Homo sapiens: one gene and its partner. The protein of the gene in region 2 purifies or fractionates together with the protein of the main gene of each other region. This does not show direct contact. Each region holds a gene or a part of one and is shown on either strand. Other genes may lie near its edges. The genes, in order: ARHGEF17 and RASL12.

Evidence for each region.
Region 1: the proteins of RASL12 (region 2) and ARHGEF17 purify together in Homo sapiens (affinity purification with mass spectrometry; 3 studies listed by BioGRID and IntAct, with this or other methods). This does not show direct contact.

The regions. Positions count from the first base shown.
Region 1 is NC_000011.10:73,360,226-73,372,045, reverse strand, and holds the end of ARHGEF17 (rho guanine nucleotide exchange factor 17), read right to left. Parts: intron 11,727-11,820; coding exon 11,513-11,726; intron 10,959-11,512; coding exon 10,885-10,958; intron 10,007-10,884; coding exon 9,807-10,006; intron 9,614-9,806; coding exon 9,312-9,613; intron 8,841-9,311; coding exon 8,591-8,840; intron 8,300-8,590; coding exon 8,213-8,299; intron 7,875-8,212; coding exon 7,807-7,874; intron 7,595-7,806; coding exon 7,446-7,594; intron 6,657-7,445; coding exon 6,482-6,656; intron 6,369-6,481; coding exon 6,099-6,368; intron 4,463-6,098; coding exon 4,266-4,462; 3' UTR 2,658-4,265; downstream 1-2,657. UniProt on the Homo sapiens protein: Acts as a guanine nucleotide exchange factor (GEF) for RhoA GTPases.
Region 2 is NC_000015.10:65,056,372-65,068,191, reverse strand, and holds the start of RASL12 (ras-like protein family member 12), read left to right. Parts: upstream 1-200; 5' UTR 201-356; coding exon 357-459; intron 460-2,918; coding exon 2,919-2,975; intron 2,976-8,773; coding exon 8,774-8,847; intron 8,848-9,574; coding exon 9,575-9,765; intron 9,766-11,820.

The DNA of each region.
Region 1 (11,820 bases), on a different chromosome or scaffold from region 2:
AAGTTCCTGACCCTCTCTGTGCCTCATCTTTTCCATTAGATAGATGGTCTAGCTAAACCCTGACCCCTGTCCCAAACCCAAGGGACCACCTGGAGAACTCCCTTGAAGAGGAGATGGCCTCTGGCTTTGACTCTCCTCACTCATCTGGGATCTGGATCCCCTTCCCAGGGCTGGTCTAAGGAACATTAGTCCAGCCTCATGAGTGACTACATGTGACTCTGGGTGCTCAGGCTGTCTCTCCTGTCCTCCAGCCACACCAGGCCAGCCCTCCTCTTCCATGAGATACAGAGACCTGAGCAGACAGATTCCAGGTTCTATCAATTAGTGGTTAGGTGACCTTGAGGAAGGCATCTAACCTCTCTGAACCTCAGTTTCCTCATCTGAAAAGGAGGGTAATAATGGTATCAACCTCCCAGGACCATTGTGAGGATTCGAGATGATCCATGCTCCTGGCTTGCAGCAAACACTAAGTGGAAGCTGGGTTTATTGTTTCGTGGCATTCAAGACCTAGAGTTGGTTCTCACCTGAATTCTCCAGATTTAATTCAACAAATATTTACTGAGCATCTACTGTGTGTCACGCACTGTGGCAGGCCTGGGGATGGAACAAAGAACAAAATCCCACGCTCACGGAGCTCCCAATCTAGGCGCCCCTGCCTTTTCCTCTTTCCCCATCCACCTGGGCCTGCACCAGGCTCCTCTACCCCTCCTTGCCTTGGTTTGAGCTGTTCTTTTTTTTTTTTTGAGACAGAGTCTCCCTCTGTCACCCAGGATGGGGTGCTGTGTAACCTCGGCTCACTGCAACCTTGGCCTCCTGGGTTAAAGCAATTCTCCGCCTCAGCCTCCCAAGTCGCTATGACCACAGGTGCACGCCACCACGCCTGGCTAACTTTTGTATTTTTTGTAGAGATGGGGTTTCTCCATGTTGGCCAGGCTGGCGTTCCCTCTTAACATCAAACCCAAGCCCCACTTTCCCCCACACCAGTGGCTAACCATAGTCATTCCCTTTACAGCAGCAGTTCTCTACCTTGGCTGGTGAAGCTAGATCATGGTGTCAGAAGCCGGGGTGGTGGTTACCCTTGGAGGGCAGACCAGAAGGAGGTCTAAGGGGAGCTTCTGGGGTGATGAGATTTTCTGTTCCTTGACCTGGGTGTGTTCACTTTATGAATACCCATCACGCTGGGTCCTTTTTTATGTCCTTTTTTGTATAAATGTTATACTTCAACTAAAGGTTTCTGAAAAACATATAGACACCTGGGTCCCACCCTCAAAGTTCAGATTTAATTGGCTTGGAATTGGCCTAGGCCCTCATGATCATAATGTGCATCCCAGGCTGAGAACCACTGCTTCAGAGGAGGTAATCCTTCCAGGAGCCTCCCCTGGGCCGGGAGCCTGGGGTCTGATGCTCATTCCAGGGCCTCCCTGCCCACAGCTGATGGGGTCCGGGCTGTCCACAGGCTGGCCAGTGCCCTGGAATGTGGGCCTCTAAGTAACAGTGGGCTGGGCCAAGCCCATTCTTACTGAGGCACTTGAGTCGGGGAAGTGGTGAGGATCTGGTCTTGGGTATCTTGTGCTAAAACTGAAGTCTGCCCAGGGTCCTCCGAGTGGAGGAGGCGGAGGCCCTGAGGCAGCAGAAGCTGGAAAGCAGTGGAACAGCAACTGACTGGCAGTGTGGGAGGCACTGGCGACTCAAGTGGAGAGGCCAGATGTCCTGAGATGCAGCTCTGATGTCTGGGCCACAGTGCCCTGTGACAGCTCCTTGCTGCCAGCTCACATCTTCACTAATAAGCACCCTTCTAGTTCACAAGCAAAATGAATCTCTTTCTTGCAATCCAAAGACCTGTGCACGCCAAGCAGCAGTCCTGTTCGGGAAGGGATCATCAGCCTCATTTCACACGTGAGGAAATGGAGGCTCAGAGGGGATACAACTTGCCCAAAGGCACATAGCTAGTTAGCGGCAAAGTCAAGATCTCAAACAAGGTCTGTCCAGCTTCAAAGCCTGTGTTTCTTCTAATGCTTTGTTTCGTTATATATTCCACATGAATGATGCCTCCTACTCCATAATATATCTGTGCTTATTAATAGAATCCCTTCCTCCCCAGATAGCCCCAGTAAAATGATGCTGCACGGAGACGGTCCATGCCCGTCCTGTGGTGTTGAGGACCCAGCAGACCCCTGAGAGGTGTGCTGCCAGTTTGCAGAGCATGAGCTTGCATGCCCCTTCAGGGGCTGACTCAAAAGTCAGTCATTTAGGCTGGAAACGTTCGTGCGTGTAGCAGAGCTGAGGCACGACATGCCTTCTAGTGATGGCCACCTCTAGTTCTGCAGGTGCACTCTGGTCTGGAGGGCTCTCTGTCCTTGCACAGAATAGTCCCATGTTGCTGGGCCTGTGCGTTCTTGTGTCTGATTTAATGACAGACCTCTTCAGACCAGAAATCAGACAGACTTGGATTCTATCCCTGCTCCAAACACTTCAGAGGGTTGGAGCAGGGCCTTGGCCTTCATCAGGGTTCTCCAGCTGAGGCTTTGCTGGAGAACATTGTTTCCTGGAGGAGCCGTAGACAGGCTCAACAGGGGTCCTGGCTCTTTACCTGGAGCATGTCAGCTTCAGATTCCCAAGCTCCATCCAGGCCCACTGACTCAGAAGCTCTCAATTAATACGTAAATAAGTTACGAATCATGTTTCTGCATTTACATGTCATCTGCAAGGGATTCTACCATGTAACCCTGGTTACAAAGCACTGAACTGGTACAACCCCTTTATTTTCCTGATGAGGAAACTGCAGCCCAGCCACCTGCCCAGGTAACACAGCAAATCGTGGCAACCTCGCCGTCCAGCACTCTTCTGGGTCTCCAAGGCCTCCCTTCTTCCCAAGTGTGTGGACGTCGGAAGGCCCATGTGGCCAGGGAGACTGAGCCCTGAGGTTGCTGACAGGAGGCCACTGTGGCCACCAATGCAGTCATCTGGTGTTTCTATTTATTGACTCTTTAAACTTCATCATCCAAAGAGAGTTAATACATGACTGTTTGGTAGCAAGAGAAACATAATCTAAGACCGCAATGACCCACCCACCCCAAACAAAACCAAAACCAAACAGAACAAAACAAACCCCATCTGAAACCAAACCTTTGGAGTTTTAGCTGAAGAAGCGAGGGGGCTGAGGGTCAGAGTGGCTCTCTGTGGTCCAGGGGGTCAGGTAGAGGCTGCTCTCAAGTGGGAGCCTTCTCTGTTGAAAAGGCTACATTCAGCCCCTCAGCTTTGGGGGGTCCTTCCTGAAGGGGCTTCCCTTGGCAGAAGGGGTGTGGAGACGGATTCAGTGGTCAGAGGGGCTCCTAGGTCTGCCCTCCAAGGTGACCATATGTGCCAGTGCATGAGACACAGGGAAGCAGGGCCAAGGACTGGGGGCGACTGTGAGGAGATCATGGGCCCATTTCTCCTACCTGAGAGAAAGCCCTGTCCAAGGCCCCATCAGTGTTCCCAAATTAGGGAACCACTAAAGGCACCACCAACAAACTGGGAAATGACAAAGCCTGACAGGTCCCCAGATGGCAATCACTGCCCCCTAATAGTCAGCATCTTGATCTAGAGGACTGAGGGCAGCCCCATCAGGCTGGGGCCCTGGAAAGTTTATGTCAACGGGCAATGTTTAGGGCCTTGGACATGCAGTGTGCGTACGTGTGTGTCTGTATGAATGGAATGGGGCTCAGGGGCGCATGGGTCCCTCCAGGAAGGCTTGGTTAGAGTCCCAGGGTGGTCCCCAGGGCAGGAATAGGTTTCTTTTCCTCATGTCATTTCCTCAAATCACCCCCACCCCAGGTGACCAGGTCACTGCATAAATAAGTGCTTGGGAAGGTACACATCTAAAAAGAAACATAAATACTGTACATGGGGAATTCCCCAGCCTTCCTGCTGCCCTCCAGAAAACCCTCCAAATATTGCACATGGCCCTCCCCAGCCCCGTGGGGTCCAGACCCAGCTGTGTCTTTGGTAGAAGCTCCAGGGTCAGAGGTCCTGGTCAGCCCACATGTCCCCCACCCGATCATGACTGGAAGCACCGGGGCAGCCAGAGGGTCGGGAGAAGCCATGGCCTGGCTGGCCAGTGGGTGTTCCATCAGGAATGCTTCCGCGAAGACAAGGCAGAGCCCACGCAGGCACATGTGTGCCCCTGGCTGGATACTCCTGGTCAAAGTCTGCGTGTGGGCTAGGGAGAGGCAAGCAGGCTGAAGGCAGGTGGGCGGGCGAGTCCTGGGCCACGGCAGACAGGGTCACACCCTCCACAGGAGGAGGTGGTTTGTGCTGTCGTCTCGACCCACAGTCTCACTGCTGCTGCCGCCCCCACTGCTGAGTCGGAAGTCCTCATAGCCATCACCTCCACTGATAACCAGCATTTTAGGCCTGGCAGGGGCGGGGCCTCGGTGCCAAGGGGAGTCCCGGTGCTCCAGTGATGGCAGCTTCTCGGGGCCTGGGGGCAGAGGGGAGGATCTGTCAGCTTGGGGGCGAATGGAGGCTTCACTGTCCCATCGGGGCCTGAATTCCCACACCCCAGAAGATAGGAAGGAAGATGTGCACACTTCCTATGGGGGAATCCCACTTTCTGTTAGCTAGGAACTTATTTAGAAAGAAATGCCCACTTCTTGGCAGCCAGACTTCTTATGTCCCATCTGTAATCTCTAGTCAGGAGTCACATAATTTCCCAAGGTGACGCCACTTCTGATTTTTTTCTTTTTACAATGTAAGTGCCCTGTAAGATGCCACTTTCTATCTCTCTTGATTACTGCACGCAACGTCCTTGCATTAAATAAGCCTCCTACTTCCAACAGCCCTTTCCCAGGTAGCTTAAGTCTTCTGTGAACCCAGACAACTCCTGACCCGAGGCTTTATTGCTTCCTGATTTCCACAGCCACTTCCTCTTGGGAATATCATTTCTTGTCCTGCCAAAGCAAGACTTTTCTGGTTGTGGCCTCCTGATGTACCTCATTTCCTGCTGTTTCACTTTTTTTTTTGAGACGGAATTTTGCTCTTGTTGCCTGGGCTGGAGTGCAATGGCACATACTCTTGGCTCACTGCAACCTCCGCCTCCCTGGTTCAAGTGATTCTCCTGCTTCAGCCTCCCGAGTAGCTGGGATTACAGGCGCCCGCCACCACACCCAGCTAGTTTTTGTATTTTTAGTAGAGATGGGTTTTCACCATGTTGGCCAGGCTGGTCTCGAACTCCTGACCTCAGGTGATCCACCCCCTTCAACCTCTCAAAGTGCTGGGATTACAGGTGTCAGCCACCACGCCCGGCCATATTTTTATTTTTATTTTTTTGAGACAGGGTATCACTCTGTCACCCAGGCTGGGGTGCAGTGGTGCAATCTCTGCTGACTGCAGCCTCGACTTCCCTGGGCTCAAGTGAGTCTCCCACCTCAGCTCAGCCTCCTGAGCAGCTGGAACCACAGGTGTGTGCCACCACACATGGCTAATTTTTGTATTTTTTGTAGAGATGGTGTCTCACCATGTTGCCCAGGCTGGGTCCTGAACTCCTGGGCTCAAGCGATCCTCCCACCTCATCCTCCCAAACTGCTGGGATTACAGGTGTGAGCCACCGCGCCTGGCACCCGGCTGTTTCACTTTCTAATTATCAGTCCATTTTCTGTGCTAGTGCCATTCTATGTTGTTTTCTGTTGCTATTTCTATTTCCTGCTCTGTGCATCACTTCCTGATTCCACTTCCTGCCCTATATATCATTTCTAGTCCTGTGCTATTTCCTGGTGCATATAGGAAATATATACAACAGGACATATTTTCTATATACATATTCTATTTGTGACATATTCTACCTCTTAGGTTATAGTTCCCTCCCTGTCTCTCATGACATTTCTCTGGATAGAACTTTATATACACACAACACATGCAGGTGCGCACACACACACACACACACACAACTATCCTAGATTTCATTTGGACACTTCCGTGGTGTATTTCCTGTCACATATGCCACCTCCAGCTCTATGTGACACTTTTCCTCCCTCTTGAAAGCTCTTCTGGCAGGATAGTGGGGAGTCCTAAACCAAATGTCCATGATCCCTAGCTTGGGGTATGATGCACTGACCCACCTGTGTCTGGGGGAGGTGGTGGGGTTGGGCAGAGCAGGTTGAAGCCATCTGGCAGCTGGACTGCAGCCAAGAAGCGGACGTGGCCGGTGTGTCCCTGGCCGAGGCCTGTGGGACTGAGTGGTGCCCGTGGGCAGCTGACAGTACCGGGCGAAGTGGGCATGGTGAGGACGACACCAGCACTGGTGCCCACCCACAGCAGCTCCTCACACACCAGCAGCGCTGTGATTCGCAGACAGGCAGCCTTGTGCTGCCGGATGATGGCATCCGAGCCTGGGGTGGGAGACAGACCACAGCTGGGGCTGAATTCTGGCCCTGGCTCAGCCGCCTCTACGATCGGGCAGAAAGGCTCCAAGGAGGGTGCTGTGGTAGTTTGAGGTCAGTACCTGCCAGCATCCTGTGCACGGGAGGAGTGACGTCTACTTCTGCCAGCTGCTCAAAGGTGTCTGGATGGTAGAGACACACGTGGGCACTACCTTTCAATGTCACCCACACACCCAGGCTGGAGTCCACCATGCAAGCCACGCAGCGGCTTGAATCCTGACCCACGTAAAACATGTGCTGGGGAAGGCGGGGGAGAAGATGGGTCATTGGCAGGCCTGCCTCCCTTGGCCCACCCTAGCCTGGAGCTTCACCAGTGTCCATCCCTCACAACTCACACTAGCGTTGGTCCTTGGTCTGATTAACCTTTCGAAGCTTGGTTTCACCAGCACCTCCCAACTTAGTTCTCAGGAATTACAATGGAGGTGCTTTTTCCCCATTAAACTTGAGTGATTTAAGGATCAGAGAACTTCAATGCTTAAAGGGTTCTAAAATCAGTCACTGGCCTCCCCCTGGACAGGTGGGGAAGCTGAAGCCTAGAAGGGAAAGGTCACACAGCAAGTCAGTCACAGAGCTGGGGCCTGAACCCAGGGCTTTGGACTCCTGCCCAGCCAACAATGGAATAAGTGAGGGAAATTAAGGGAACCCGTTGCCCCTGGATACTTCTGACATGTGTGCAAGTGACATGTGCAGCAATAAATGCCAGAGTCTAATGCTAATGGATGTTGACATCAGAAAGGACTCTTGTCCTATCCCCAAAGGACCCTAAAACCTGAGTTGAGAGATAGGGTGGGCAGGAGGATGAATAAGATTCCTAATGTATATGGGACACTTACTGTATTCCTCATCAGCTACAGAAGAAATGAGGATCGAAGGAGGACAGGGACTGGCCAGCGTCACTCTGTGGTCAGAGGAAGGCCCTAGCCCTCTGCTGGATGCTGCTTATGCCCCTACCATGGTCTCCATCTCCCTGTCACACGGACCTAGCTCATCCCATGGCACCAATTCCATTCCCCCACCCCCTGCTACCTCCAGCTGCAGCGTGTCAGGGCTCAGGACAAGGACTCGGTTCTGGCAGCCACACCACAGCCGCCCACCCACAGATACCATCTTGGTGATGGGGCTCCCCTGGGTGCCCAAGGTCACTGATTTGAAGTTCTGGGGGTCCCAGAAATGGCCTGGAGTGGGGTAAAGAAAACAGGAAATTCACTCCAGTTCTAAATTTGAGCCTCGGTCTCCCCTGAAATGAGATGTTAACATTCCCCTTTTATAAGCAAAGAAACCAAGGCCCACAGAGGGCCTGGGAGTTGCCCAAAGCCACATCTCCAGGAGAGAGCCCCAACACCAGTAAGGGGACAGGGGCAGGGTGTGGGGGAGGGCAGATACTCACCTGCTTCCCTTTGGTAGACCACAAGCTCTCCATTGGCCAGAGACACAAACACCTGGTTATTCAGATACCTGGGTAGGGAAAAGAGGAAGCAGTAAGGGAGTTCAGGCAGCCAAAGTGGGTCACCCAGGACCAGGGGAACCACAGATAGAATGGGTATGGCTCCCGAGAGGCCACCTCTTCCCACCCCTTGTTCTCCAGGTGGGGGTTGCCTGAGGCTAAGAAAAGGGGGTGACTTGCCCGAGCTCACACAGTGTGTAAGAGGCACAGCTAGCCTAGGGCCAGGCCTCTGGCTTCCAGCCTCCACACAGAGGAGGGACAGTAGAGCAGGGGGACCAGATGAACAGAAGGAGGCCTGCACGTGTGGCTGAGAAGAGTCTAGATAGGAAGGGCCACCCTGGGGCCTTACAAGATGCAGGTCACAGAGGCCGCATGCTGGAGCTTCATGCTGTTCCTGCGGTCACGGATGCTGTCGGAGGACTGGTACACGTGGACACTGTGGATCGGGGTATGCACCTGGGACAAATGCTTGGGGCACACCAGCCCCTGGAGTCATCCCTCCACCTCTTTGCCCCTAGCACCACGTCTTCAATGCTGGGTGCCTGCCCAAGGTACTGAGGTCCCACAGCCTCCCTGGGATTGTCAGACCCACTGACATCCCTGGTCAGCAGTACCCCTGAGGTGTGACCCAAAGCCCTCCTGCCTTGGCTCCAGGGGACCACATGATTTCCAGAGCAGGGAGCTCAGAGTTCTGGCACTGTGTCCCTAGTCCCTCCCCTGTCCCTACCAGCCATCCTCAGTGCCCAGCCACACGGAGCTCTGGTAGGCCTCAGGGTCGACACTCAGCAGGTCCTCAAGGCTGCCCCGGGTGAAGGAGCCGTGGCTGGAGCGGCGAAGGGCTCTCCCATCCATTGGGCTGGTGCCGCAGGGACCACCAGGCCCAAAGGAGCCAGACAGTGGCAGGAAGCCTGGCTCCTGCTCCTCCTCTGAGCTGGTGGTCTCTGCCGTGGCCTCCTTGGAACTCGGGGTCTCCTCATCTGAGGGAGACAAAGGTCTCTGTCTCCATTTCCCTCTGCCAGGCCTGGGACCTGATATCTTTCTAGGCCATGCATCCCTCCTGGCCATGCCCCTCCGGAAGGCCTCTCAAAGCTGTTCTTCCCCGGCCTGCTCCGGTCTGCTGCCCTGCTGCCCTGCTCACCGACAGCTCAGCACTACAGAATCCTTGATCTTGCCTGGCCCCTCAGACCCAGTGGCCACACCGTGGGTCCCCACTCCACCAGCACCCCATCTTCCTTAGCTGAGTGCTCCAGGGTCTTCATGATCCCGCCTGACTGTCCCACTGTCCTCTGGATCCTTGGTGTCACATCCCCTGCCCTCATTGCTCTGTGTGCTAACATCCTGAGGTCTGACGCCATGCCTTTGCCCTACACTGGTCCCTCCTCTCCCCCTCCTCTGGGCAGTCCACCCTGCCTGCCAAGGCCAAGTTGGAGGAGATGGCCAAAGCTCACTGCCAAAGCTGGAGGAGATGGTGGACCGGCTGGCCTGGCTCTGCAGCGTCCCCGAGGGGCTGGGCGAAGACTCATCGTCAGAGTCACTGTCAAAGGGCACCAGCTCTGGGCGGGGGTCACCCTCGCCGAGGCCCGGCGTCATCTCCAAGCCCGAGCCTGCAATGGAGATGTGAAGGCAGGGCTGCGGCCCCGGCTCCGCGAGCGTCGCGGCTTCCTCGTCTGCAGCGGCCTCGACGTCCAGCTCCGGCCCGGCGGGCTCCGGTGCCGTCTCTGGAGGACTCCTCAGCGACGGAGGAGGCTCCCTGCGAGAAGACGGAGTGAGGATGACAGCAGCTACGAGCCAGACGGGGCCCCGGTGGTGGACACGCCCACCGACCCCGCCCACACTCGCCGGGCCCCGCCCACAACCACGCCGGGGCGGCCTGAGAGTGTGCTGGGACAGGGGTTGGTTCTCCCAGGCCCGCGGTGCCGCCCACCCCGCCGCCCAGGCCTCACCGGTGGCAGCGAGGCTGCAGCCCGGGCACCGCCCCGATGCAGAGGATGCGGGCGGAACAGACGGCGATGCAGGCCTCCACGTCCGGCTCGGCGCGCAGGCTCAGCAGGCACACCTGGCCCACGTAGCCGTCGCTGTTGCAGACCCATACCTCAGGCGAGGGCTCCGGGCAGCTGTTCAGGGTGGGAGCCGCACAGGAGAACTGCAGGAGGCGCCAATGGACAGGAGAAGGTGAATGGAGGAACTGCTGCCAGCATTCCCCACTCCTGGGAAACCCCGGCAGAATGGAGGGAGGCAGGCCTGCATGGGTGTGTGTGTGTGGATGCCCTATACACCCTTCTACACACGCGTACACATACACGCGGCACAGGACCCTTTTTTTTTTTTTTGGATTGGTTCTTGCTTTGTCTCCCAGGCTGGGGTGCAGTGGTGGGTTCATGGCTCACTGCAGCTTTGACCTCCAGGGCTCAAGCAATCCTCCCACCTCAGCCTCCTAAGTAACTGGGACCACAGGGGCGCGCCACTAAACGTGGATAATTTTTGAATTTTTTGTAGAGATAGGGTCTTGCCTAGCCTGGTCTTGAACTTTTAGGTTCATGTGATCCTCCTAACTTGGCCCCACAAAGTACTGGAATTACAGACGTAAGCCACCGCACCTTGCCCATGTGACCCTCTACACATCAAATGCACTCATGCCTATGGGATACAGGCATCATGCCTACATGTACACACACATATCCCCAGATATAATCATGGATACATGCATAGAAAAAATGTGATGCTGGTAACCTCTGTACATATGTATGCAGCCTCATACAAGCACATAAATGAAGCTACTTCCCATCATTCATATAACCTTTGTTCACATGCACAGATACAGATATGCACGAAGCATACCCATATACATGTGTACATGTAATACATATGCAGCACCCACACACATGTACAGAGAGCTGAATTCTCCAAGACATAAGGAGCAATAGCAATGTTCACGGCATATACACAATGTCGTACACAAAAATTCATGAACACCTGCTGGCTTTGAAAACATGTACCCAAGTGACCCAGATGCAGACATACCTGCATGCCACTGCGGGTTTTCATGATGGGGATGGCCTTCAGGAACTCAGGGTCTAGACAGCTTTTGCTGGATGCTGTAGTGGAGATGGACAGACAGACGGACCCTGCTTAGCATAGCATCCATCTCACCCTGGTCCTGCCCCTGCCCCATTCCCCTTCCTCCCCTGCCCCTCAGGGTCTCTTTAGGGGAAGGCCTGATCCCAGCCACATTAGAATAAGGCAGTTGCTCCTGGCCTCAATCTTTTCCCATGTGTATTGTCTTGGGGTTAGACCCAGAGGTCTCTGTGGATCTTCTAAGCCATGAACCCTGATCAATCGCTTTCCCTGATCCAGCCCTGCTCAGAGTGTGTGTAGGGAGGGTATGGCGAGGGTCTTGGCTATCGGTGCCCACTATGGGGCAGGTCCAGCAGACAGTGAGACCCTATCCATGGAATCCCCTCCCTGCCAGGGAGGCCACAGCTATTATTCAGTCTGATGTTTCACTGCAGAAGCCCCCCTCCCCACCAGGTGGAGCCGGAGCACAGGGCACTGCGGTTCTGGCTCCTGAAGTCACAGACAGCTGTGAGATGCCTCTGGCCTCCTGCCTGGAAGCTCTAGGAGGAGAGGGCCAACATGTGCCTTGGCTTACCCAGCTTCCTCTTGGCCTCATCGAAGGCCTGTTCAAAACCAAGGCGGGCGTCAGGGTGAGGGAACTCAAAAATGTAGGAGTCGGTGCCCTCGGGCCGAGTGGCGCACAGCTCCAGCTTGGTTGGCGGGAAGGAAAGCGCGTAGCACAGCGCCTGCTTCTCCGACAGGTCCCGGTGCATGGCAGCTGAGAGGTCCCGCAGTGCATCGTCCAGGCTCTGTGGGGAAGAGGGCCCAGGCCTCAGGCCCCAGCATCTCACCAGAGCCTGCACCTGCCCTTAATGTGTGGGGACCTGCCTCTCTCCTTAGACA
Region 2 (11,820 bases):
GGGCGCTCGGGAGGGTGACGGCAGGGTCCTCGAGGCCCAGCCCGGCGGTGGGGGCGCGGCCGGCAGGAGCTCCCTCCCTGCTCCAGGAGCCGGCTGAGCGCGCCCCGCGGGGGGCTCCGCAGCCCTTACAAGGAATTTGGTGGCGCTTGGGGTGGCCCCGCCCGCCAGGCTCCACCGGCCCCTCCTCCCCGCGGGGTGGCAGCCCGCTGGACGCGGGGCCGAGGGCGCGGACGCCGACGGGTCCGGGGCCGCGCGCTCCAGGGAAGCCTGCATCCCGCTCCCCTGGGCCCCGACGGGCGGGCGCACTGCGCGGGGCCCACCGGCCGCAGACCTGCGTGGCCGTCCAGGGCGTCGCCATGTCCTCGGTGTTTGGAAAACCCCGCGCGGGCAGCGGGCCTCAGAGCGCGCCCCTCGAGGTCAACCTGGCCATCCTGGGGCGCCGCGGGGCTGGCAAGTCTGGTGAGTGGCGCCGGGGAGCCTGAGCCGCCAAGTGCGGAGCTGGGCGTGGGTGGGGGGACAGTGGGCTGTGCTCTTGGGGGCAGGTTCTTCCACTGGCTTGGGGAGCTTCCTTCACCCAGGAGGGTCGCACAAGACACCGTGATTTTCTTTGCCTCAGTTTCCCTGTTGCCGGGCTTTCTCTTCTCTCGGCTTTGTGCTCAGCTCCACCATCTCTGTCTTCTGTTCCCTGCCTGCCTCTTCCCTTTGTGTCTTCCCACTGTCTCTGTCCTCCGTATCAGTGACCCCTGCTGTCTCTCCCCTCTCTCTTGTGTGTCTCGGAGTCCTTTACTGGTCGGTCTCCCCTGCCACCAACCTTCCAACCCCCACCCCTATGACCTACCCTGGGGCCAGCAGTCAGTCCTGGCGACTGGCTTCAAAGGGACCTGTTGGGCACTGATCCCCCTACCCAAGGCGCCTCTTTGAGCTTAGTCGCAGCCTTGCTACTCCCTGATTAGGCTTGGGGGAAGACTTCCCGTCCAACCCCTCCCCCTCCACACCCCCTCCCCGTAGAAGGGAGCTGGTGAAGTCACTAGCTGTTGAGATTTCTCAGGGAAGGTCCACTCCCCCACTCCCACCCCCATTCCCTGGGATTCTGGGACAAGTTGTGCATTCTTATCAAATGTGTTCGTTTCAAGCCAGACCCCTCTCAACTTTCTGGAAACACATTGGGTTATGGTTCCAGGTGCATGGGATTGTCCTTGATGAGCCAAGATCTTGGGCTTCCATTGAGATAATTTGTGTCAACACTGAACTATGCCACTCCTGGCTGGCTGAAGGAGGGAGGGCAGAAGGGGTCCTCCACTGGCTGTTTTTCCAGTTTTAGCCGTTAGTGATGGCCAACCCAAGCTCAGCTGGCTGTGGGTTTCCTCCCCAGAGTGTTCTGTAAGACTCACTGGGGGCCTACTCTCTGATTTTGAAGCCAGCCCCACCCCCAGAGAGGGGACTCTGAATCTGGTTTTCCTACAGAAGGGATTACCCTCTTCCTTTGAAAGATTTGCCCTTTGAAAATCAGATTGTTATCCGTAGCTCTGTAACCGGTACCGTTTAGCCAGTGACTACATAAAAGAAAGAATTTAAATTTTAAAATATGTATTCCCTGGGTATTAGTTTGCAAACTGACACCGTTAGGAATCCTAGGAAAGAATTTTAAGGATTTTATTCACAATGTCACTTTTTTTTTTTTAAGACAGTGTCTCTGTCACTCAGGCTGGAGTACAATGGCGCGATCATGACTCACTATAGCCTCAAACTCCTGAGCTCAAGTGATCTTCCCTCTCAGCCTCCTGAGTAGCTAGGACTACAGGCATACCACCATGCCTGGTTAATTTTTCAATTTTTTTAGAGATAACAGTGTCACTGCATTGCCCAGGCTGGTCTCAATCCCAAAGCACTGGAATTACAGGCATCCCATTACTTTTCTTTCTTTCTTTTTTCTTTTTCTTTCTTTCTTTCTATCTTTCTGTCTTTGTTTCTTTCTCTTTTCTTCCTTCCTTTTTCTCTTTCTCTTTTCCCTCCCTCCCTCCTTCCCTTCATCCCTCTCTTCTTCTTTCTTTTTTTTCTTTCTTCTTTCTCTCTCTTTCTTCTTTCTTTCTCTTTCCTTCTCTTTCTTTTATTCTCTCTCTTCTCTACTCTTCTCTTCTCTTCTCTTCTCTACTCTTCTCTTCTCTTCTCTTTTCTTTTCTTTCTTTCCAAACAAGCAGTAGCGAACATTACTTTTTGAGGGTCCAGTATAGTAGTTGGCTGGTCTTTGCTTTATATGGCTACACTCTGAACCAAAGAGAGCTTAATTCTTGAGTTTTACATTCTGCTGAGATATCCATGATGAGTGTAGAGGCCCCAGAGAAAGCCAAGACTTGCGATGTGGGAGACCAGGACCAGAGTGTGTTTCTTCGGGACACAGACCTCACCTGGACCTTACCTGGAAAGCCCAGGCACTTGGGGATTTATACCCTTCCCAAAGATCAACCACTGCAATCAACTCTGCTCTTCCTGTGTTTTTGGCTTGTAGCTAAAGCCTGGAGTAAATAGCCCCACACTTCAGAATCTCTGTGACTTGTCCGGGGTGGGCGACACCTCCCTTCAGTTGAGGTTTCACCAGGCTGACTCTAGGGTAATGGTTGCATGGGTCCTGACCCCTGAGTTCATACCTTCCAAACACCCCTTAGGCTTGCCACTCATTGCTTTCCTTGCCATTAAAAAAAATTCCCACGGTGCAATTAGAGGCACTTGGCTCCCCGTAGTTCTGGTTTCCTTCTGAGCCTTTCAAACCAATTCCTCAGTTCCCTAGCTTCATTCTCTGGGAGAGCTGAGCTTGGTGTCAGCCGGGGATCACAGAGGTTAGATAAGGCCTCCCTTAAACGAGGGGCCAGCAGCTAGACATGGCCGCGGAGATGGAGCCAACCTCTTTCTGCTTCTTGCAGCCCTGACCGTGAAGTTTCTGACCAAGAGGTTTATCAGTGAATATGACCCCAACTTGGGTAAGAAACTACTCCCCGTACCTTCTGCTGCCTGTGCCCCATCTGGAGTGCTCTCCTGGGACCCACCCCGTGGGTGGGCACTGACCAGGACTGCATGTCTGGGGACAGAAGGGAGAAGCCGCCAGGATGACCCAGCCCATGGGGGAAAATGTTTTAAGTGTCAGAAATACCCCTTCCACAGCCCACCCCAGACAACTGGGGGGTTGGCCTAATTCACAGAACTAAGAGAGGCTGATTTACCCTAAAATATGAGGTGTGAAAAAACTTTAAAAAATAAAAATAAACATAGCAAGACATCCACATCCAAACAGGTATTATTCTTGGGCCGGGTGCGGTGGCTAATGCCTGTAATCTCAGCACTTTGGGAGGCTGAGGTGGGTGGATCACCTGAGGTCAGGAGTTAATGACCAGCCTGGCCAACATGGTGAAACTCCGTCTCTAAAAATACAAAAATTAGCTGGGCATAGTGGTGTGTGCCTGTAATCCCAGCTTCTAGGGAGGCTGAGGCAGGAGAACTGCTTGAACCCGGGAGGCGGAGATTGCAGTGAGCCAAGGTCGTGCCACTGCACTCCAGCCTGGGCGACAGAGGGAAACTCTGTCTAAAAAAAAAAAAAACTCAAAAACAAATAGGTATTATTCTTCAAGATGGTCACTCAGTGTTCTCTTCCAGAAAACCTGGGCAGGACATTCGAGAAATTCTCTAGTGGTGCTGGCTTCTGAACCAGTTTTTTAACCGTATGAGAAAACAACTGTTGTTTTCATCGCTGCATCATGGTATATTGGAAAAAGGAACGTTTCGGTGTCAGTCAGAGCTGGGTTTGAATCCTACCTGGCTCTGCTCCTTATTGGCAACCTTGAGCCAGTCAGCTAACCTCTCTGAGCTACTGTTTCCTCATCTGTAAAATGGGCATTAAAAAATAGTTAGAGAATTGCTGTGAGGATTAAAGAAATAGCACATGTAAAAGATCCAGCCTAGTACTTGACCCACAGTAGGCACTCAATGCATTTTTGCTTTTCCTTCCTCCTCAAATGGATTCCCATACACAATAGCTTAGATTCCCTTCTAAAACAAATCAAAGCAGGATTTTATTAGTATAAATGTTGCTTAAAGCTCACATGTATAACATTTGTCTATTGTAAACTGTTCACTGAGAGCCATAAGGTGTCTGGATGATCTTAGCCTTTAGAAAATGGGTGTTGCAGTCTTGGATTATTTTCCCCATTCATAAAAATCAATTAAAGCATTCATGGGACCCCTGAGAGCCCTCCAAAGAAGCCCAAGGCTTTGTGACACAGTGGAAACCCCCTGCGCTCCCTGCAGCAGGCCCCTGATCCAGCGCTCCTGCCGCACCTGGAGGGGAGAGCTCCTTACCCTAGTGGTGCCCAGCCCCTTAGTTCAGGCTGGAGTCCAGCACCAGTGTTGCAGCAGGCAGAGACATCAGGGCTATTTAGTCCCCTTGTTTAAAAAAGCTTTTCCTTAGGTAGCAGAATCCCTTCTTCCAGATTTTAAACAGAACCCCAGGGTGTCAAACAGAGAGAGCAAAGGGGTTCCCATGGGTAAGTCAGGGATGCAGGGCAGGTGACATGGTGACAGTCCCTAAGAGATTTGTTCCTCGAAGCTCTGCTTGACCCCCGGTGCCTTGGCACAGCCCTTCAGTGCTACAGTGGAGGAAACAGGCCCAAGGAGCTGAAGACTCTGGGCCAAGGTCACCCAGAGGAGGCCCTTTGATTAGCAGAGGTCAGCTCCAGAGAGAGGAGGACACAGGATGCAATGGTGCACTGGCCGGCGAGGTGTTGGAAGAGGCCAGAGCATGGAATAGAGATGGGGTGGAGAAACTGAGGACAGAGGTGAGGTGGGAGGACAGGAAGGAAAGGCACACAAGCAGACACAGTGTCTGGGAAAGGACAAGGGGAATTCCCAAGGGCAGGGACTCAAAAGACATATTCGGCCTAATTCAAATATTGCATGGGTCATGCTTATACCAAAAATTATTCCTTTTTTTTTTTTGAGATTCAGATTTAACTGGGCATCTTGTATTTTTCCTGGCATCTCACCTCCAGTCTGTCTTCCTCCCTGCCTTCCAATCGATACTGTCACAGGGTGCCACCGGATGAGCCTATTAGGGTGGTGGTTTGAGCCTCCTGATTGAATAATTTTGGAGTTCTGACCTGGTAGTGGAATGCGTGGGCAGACTGTCTGGGAAGTGGGCAGCCCCACAATGGTCAGTCCCCTTGGTCTGTGGTCTCTCACACTACACTGACAGCCCACGAGTCAGAGAGCCAACCAGACATTCTCCCCTCAGACTCTCTGGGAGGCCAGTGCCACTCCTCGAAGGTTCTGCTAGGAGGGGCCTAAACATTCCGGCCACTGTCCCATTGTTGGTTCCAGCAGCAGCAGAGACAGATGAGAACCTTTCCTTCTGTGGATAAAGGTCTCCACATTCCATTGGGGAGCTAGCCATCAGCAATGCTGGTAAAACAACTCTCTAAGCCCTTCCTAGGTCTTCTGAGAGCCTGAGCTCATTTGGTGAGCCTTGAGGGTGGAGATTCATTCCCATTTCCAGCAGGTAGCACAGTACTAGCTTCAGTGTAGATGAGGGTTTAACTGGGGGGGTGGTAAATTTTGGTTTTAGGATTACCCTTTAAAGAAGAGCTCCTATCACGATCCTCATTTTATAGGTGGAGAAATGGAGGAAGAGAGGGCTCAGTGATTTGCCTTAAGATTATGGAGACCCTCAGGCACAAAGGAAGACGAGGCATGGCTCCAGTTGCTCTCCGCTAGGAGCAGCCTCATGTCATAGAGGGCCTGGAGTCAGAGGTCTGTGTGGCATGGGGCCCTCTGAGCTGTGGTTTCCCCATCTGGAAGATGGGACCAATAGCCTGTGCTCTGGCTGTGTAAGAGTTGCACCGTTTTCTGGGGTGTGGCTGTTAGAGCTGGTAGTAGCTGAGAGATTCAGTGTCTGTGGAAGGGCTTTGCCTGTGCTGAGACCCGCAGGAGTGGGCAGGCGTCTCCAGGAGAATATTCTCCTCTCCCAGAAGGGCTGAGGGTGCCTCATCTGGCTCAGCCAGGGAAGAATGTCAGCTTCTCACTCCTCTTGCTCTCCTCCTCCTCCAGCGAGGACATAGGCACCATTTCTTTTTTTTTTTTTTTTTGGTCACCCAGGCTGGAGTGCAGTGGCGCAATCTCGGCTCACTGCAAGCTCCACCTCCCGGGTTCACACCATTCTCCTGCCTCAGCCTCCCGAGTAGCTGGGACTACAGGTGCCTGCCACCCGAGTAGCTGGTACTACAGGTGCCTGCCACCATGCCCGGCTAATTTTTTTGTATTTTTAGTAGAGACAGGGTTTCACCGTGTTCAGCAGGATGGTCTAGAACTCCTGACCTTGTGATCCGCCCACCTTGGCCTCCCAAAGTGCTGGGATTACAGGTGTGAGCCACCACGCCCGGCCCAACATAGGCACCATTTCTGAGGCAGCACCCTGTATACACTCTGACGTGAGCTTCTGTGGTGCCATTTAAAAATTATTACTATAAATGAGAGGAAAACATCGGCAAATTCAAAACTTTGGGAAATGACTCTTCTCTCTACCCAAAAGTCCACAGGATATTAATTACAACCAGGTGTTAGGAAACCCATATATTTAAGGACACCAGAGTACTCTGAGGCAGGGACTTGATGATAGGAAGTCTGGACATTACTGTGACTGGGAAAGGAGCCCCTCACTCCTGCCCCAGCCCCTGAGGCCTGTCACTTCTTCTATAAAGGGAGGCTGGACAGTACGAGCTCCAAGGCTTCTTCCAGCTCATGCAGGCATGTTCCACATCCCCACCAGACTGGGCGATTCTGGTCTTCCCTTGTACTCTGCCCAGACAGAGCTGGAGGGTGGGCTGATTCACTGAGCAGTCACGGGGTGAGGGGGTCCCATTGTGAACACAGCCCAGCCTGGAAGCCCTGAGTTCAAGTTCCTTCTGCTGATTAGGTGCTGTGTGGCCTTGGGTGAGATCCCTTCTCTGGGCCTCACCTTGCCATCTCTCTACAATGGAGCTAACAGCAACCTTGAAAGGCTGTCATGCTGTGGGCAGGAGACCAAGGTTGAGCTAGCGCCTTTCACTGGGCTGGGCAGGACACTGCGCCCATTGAGGGGAACTCCTAAAAGGGGTGCATCTGACATCTTTGACTGGAAAATAAAGACAGATCTGAAAGCGATGTAAGCATCTAGGGGCAGCTCTTCTTGGACCAAATATAGTTAAACATTTGGAACATAGTTTCCATTAGATTTTTTTTGTCTTTGCATAAGAGCAGCTATTTATCCAAGTCCCCAAAGCAGGCTGGGGACAAGAAGCTGTCTGTGATTCATGCTGGATGCTAGTGGACCTGGAGTGTGTCCAGGCCAGCTTGGCTGCCAGTGGCCCTCAGAAAGAAGTGTTTGACTATAAATTCAGCCAGGGTTGGGGGCGTGCCCTCTCACAGTGGATGCTGCCAGGAAGGCAGAGACCACCCCAGTTCTGCCAAAAGGTGACTTCTTTAGGGTCACTAGGGGCAGGGGACACCTAGGGAAAGGTGATAACCAAGTGCACTCACACATGTGGGCCAATGACACAGGCACAGATTGGGGGTGCAGAGAATGACTGCCAACATGGCCGCAAGGTCCTCTGCATGCCTGGCCACTTGTTGCTTTCTCAGATTTGAGATCATGAGAACCATATATATAAAAAAAGTAACAACTCGAGAAATTCAAATAAGGTCACTAGTTTGGTTCATAGTATGGTATCAATGTAAATTTCTTTTTGCTCATTGGGCTATGGTTATGTAAGGTGATGACACTGGGGGAAGCTGGGTGAAGAGTACACAGGAACTCTACTATTTTACAACTTCTATGTCAGTCTAAAGTTATTTCAAAAGTTAAAAAAAAAATCACCTGGGAATGTGATCCTGCCCTATTAACTTTGGAACACCATCATTCCCACTGCCCTCACCAGGCATGTATGGTGAGCCAGGCCCCATGCCTGGGGGGCCCATCCAGTTCTTACAGAGCCCTGGGAGATGGGACCGTTAAATGAGCTAATGTCAAGCACTTAGCACAGCGCCTGGGACAAAGGAAAGGCTTGGAAACTGTTAGCAATGTTATCACAGTGTTCCCATTTTAAAATGAGGAAACAGCCTCAGAGAGCTGAAGTGATTTGGCCAAGTCACAAAGCTAAAAAGCAGCTGACATTGGGTTTAATACCACATTCTCCAACTGAAAACTTCTGACTACACTAGACTCCCCTGCTGTCATGTTGACAAGGATTATTTGTAAAACCTTCTCGGAACTTCTAAAAGGGGTCTGACTGCCATTCCTTCCATTGTATTGTGTACTTCTCTTTTCCCTTGTCTCTTCTCCCACTGGGGACAGGAGGTTGGTTGAGGGGGAAGAGAGTGGGAAAGCCTGGGGTTCTGGGATAGAGGGGCTAGCAGTGTTGCTCCTGAGCCAGCCTGTGCTGCTAACAGGGTCTAGGGGCCACACACTCGACTCTATCCTGCTGGTTTTGTGTGTGGATCCAGAACACAGACCCACCCCCGAGGTGTGGTCTGTGAGTGACCACTGATGCTGAGCCCTGCAGGTGGAGCAGCATCTCCTTGGTGGGAGGTTCTGCCTGTAGCCTCCATGTGGGTGAGAACCAAGGACTTTCCAGTGGTCCCAGCCCCAGAGCAGCTGCTAAGGTCCCCCCAGGCCACACAGGGGTCTAGCACAGAGGGAAGCTCAAACTTACACCCAAGGCACTGTGTCTGACCTGGCTAACCATCTGTGTTGTAGAGGACACCTACAGCTCCGAGGAGACTGTGGACCACCAGCCTGTCCACCTGAGGGTCATGGACACTGCAGACCTGGTAACATTACCTCCATTACCTATGCACTGCTGTGAGTCAGTATAGCCTCCTGAGAAGTCCTGGCCCAGAGTGCGGGACCTCAGATAGGCATTTAGATGCCTTTTAAGCTCAACTTTGCTGTGTAACCCTGAATGAGGCACTTGACCTCTCTGGGTCTGAATCCTTCCTTTGCCAAATGAGAAGGATGGGACAGGGCCTGGAGAGACATGATGGTTGCTGGCATCTGCTCTGAGATCCTGTGCTGTGGGGCTCTGTGCCTGTGCACACGAGGAGACAGGTGCACACCTGTTTACACAGATGCTCCTGGTGAGAGCCCCTCGGCCCAGGTCTCTCCCACACACAAGTCTCCCCCCATGTCCTCACCACCCCCTGCCAAGGCTGGATGCCAGTTACTCTCAGAAGCCAAAGGGGCAGCATGAACTCAACCCAAAACCAGTGGTGCCCAGGGACAGCCAGGTCTCTGTAGGGACCATGCCAGAGTCTTTGGCTCTGGGCCCAAGGGGCCAAGGTCTCCAAGTCTCTGGCTGGGTGGTGGGAGGGAGGTTCATGAGACAATGTCTCCTTTCACACCAAGCCAAATCCACACTCAAGTGCCCCTTTGAAAGGGCTCTGCTGAGAAACAATATACAAAGACCGGGGAGTGGGGAGGTGGGATTGGGCGGCTCAGGTGAAGGCCTTTACCCCAACCTCCTCTGCCCCCCGGCGGGGCTTCTCACCTTCACCCCAGGACACCCCCAGGAACTGCGAGCGCTACCTGAACTGGGCCCATGCCTTCCTGGTGGTGTACAGCGTCGACAGCCGCCAGAGCTTTGATAGCAGCAGCAGCTACCTGGAGCTGCTTGCCTTGCACGCGAAGGAGACACAGCGCAGCATCCCTGCCCTGCTGCTGGGCAACAAGCTGGACATGGCTCAGTACAGGTGAGCACAGCCTGCTTGGCCGTTATCTCCAGAGCTCGCTTTCTTCACTTGTAAGGTCAGGTGGCATCTTGAGGGATTAGTGGGCTGCTAAGAACAGTCATCCCCTTGAATTGTGGTAGAAGGGATTATATGTTTGTTTGTGTGTGTGTTTGTTTTCTGAGACAGAGTCTCACTGTGTCACCCAGGCTGGAGTGCAATGGCACCATCTCGGCTCACTGCAACCTCCACCTCCTGGGTTCAAGTGATTCTCCTGCCTCAGCCTCCCCAGTAGCTGGGATTACAGGTTCCTGCCACCATGCCAGGCTAATTTTTGTGTTTTTAGTAGAGATGGGGTTTCGCCTTTTTGGCCAGGCTGGTCTTGAACTCCTGAACTCATGATCCGCCTGCCTCAGCCTCCCAAAGTGTGGGATTACAGGCGTGAGCCACCGTGCCCGACCACAGGGATTATGTTGTAAGGGTATGGTAGATGTTGGTCTTCCAGGCAGCCAAGGACTTGAAGGGAAACGCTTCTGGGTCACACAGCAACTGCACCCTGAAAGTCAGAAGAGTGGCCACTCCTTCCGCGCTCTTGGGTCTCTGTGGATTCTCTTGGACTCACCCTTCTTGCATGAATCTATCTGACCTTCCGATCTCACTCCCAGCAGCTGACTGGTCTAGTGCCCAATTCCAATTCTAAGGAGAGAGGCTCTGATGGGCTCCTTGGTCAGGTGTCTGCTCTGGTCCAATCGGCTCTCACCTCACCCAGACGCAGCCTCCCACTCTCACTCCCACAGTTGGCTGGGCTGAGGGCAGGTTCTCTTAGAAAGGGTTGGACTCGAATCGGAGGTCAGAGACTGGGCCAGAGGATGCATTACTGAAGAATACTGCAGCCATATTTTGCTTGGCTGGCATAGTGTCTTAAAAGACCTAGAATTGGAATGCTTTGAGGTGGGGCACGCTCTCTCCAGCCGACCCCAGGCCTCACCACTCCCCGTGGTTTACCTCCACCCTTTCCACACATTCAAGTTGCCCGCCTGGCCCTGAAGCATTTGACACTGTGATGCCTGAACTTGATGAGTAATGCCACTGGATTTCTCCAGCACTGACCTTTGTCCTCTGTGGCCAGTCTACCTGCAAGGGATAGCCCCTTCCACCAGCCACTCATCCCTCCCTGTTCACGGTTGGTCAGTCCTGCTGCCCTAGGCCCCAAGGGCACATTGACTGGTGTTAGCAAGGAAGGGACCCTTTGTTTAGAACGGGTCAGATGGGCCGTGGGAAAAAGAGAGGTGTGGGACCGTGAAAGGGGACTATGGTGAGAGGCCTTCAAAGGTGGCCAAGCCCTCAGACCTAGGCAAATTGTGTCTCAGAGAATGAGGGAAGTCATGTGACCTGAAAGCTGCTGAAGGTAGTCTTTGAGGAATTGCAGACCCTCTTAGGGGTCAGAAGACTGGATTGTGAGTAGGCCAGTTTTCAGTACAGGGAAAAAAGCACAGATCACTCTTTTGACCCCAATCTTTGCCAAAGGGATTGTCTAAAATGGTTTGGGAGCAAATAACAAAGCATACATGCTCAAATGAAGCTGATCCCACCCGTTCCCTAAAAACAACTCAGGACAATGTATTCCTATTTCATTCTTCGATCAAGTCCCAAGTTTAGTAGATTAGGATTCTGGGAAGCACAGGAAGTCTAACTTTTAGCTGAGCATTGGCCATTGTCTCCCACGACTGTCTCACTGTTAAAAGGGTAAAATGTCGGTTAGGTTGATGCTTCCCAAGCCACTGATAAAATTTTCCCTAGGATGCAACAAAATAAGAAAAAGGACAATGTTCTGTGCCTCTGTCACCCACTCACACACATGCACGCACACATGGGGTTTGTGTTTGTGAAAATTCATTATTCAAGCCCCCACAATGACAAAGTTGCAGATTCAAGCTCATCATAAAAGCAAATAATAGCAAGTGTTCTTTCCAAAAGGGTTCCTCAGGAAGCGGTGAGCTTACTGGCACCACGGCACCCAGCCCTGGGTGGGGAATAGATCCGATGCCTCTGACTCTTTTTTGTCCCAGTTACTCACTC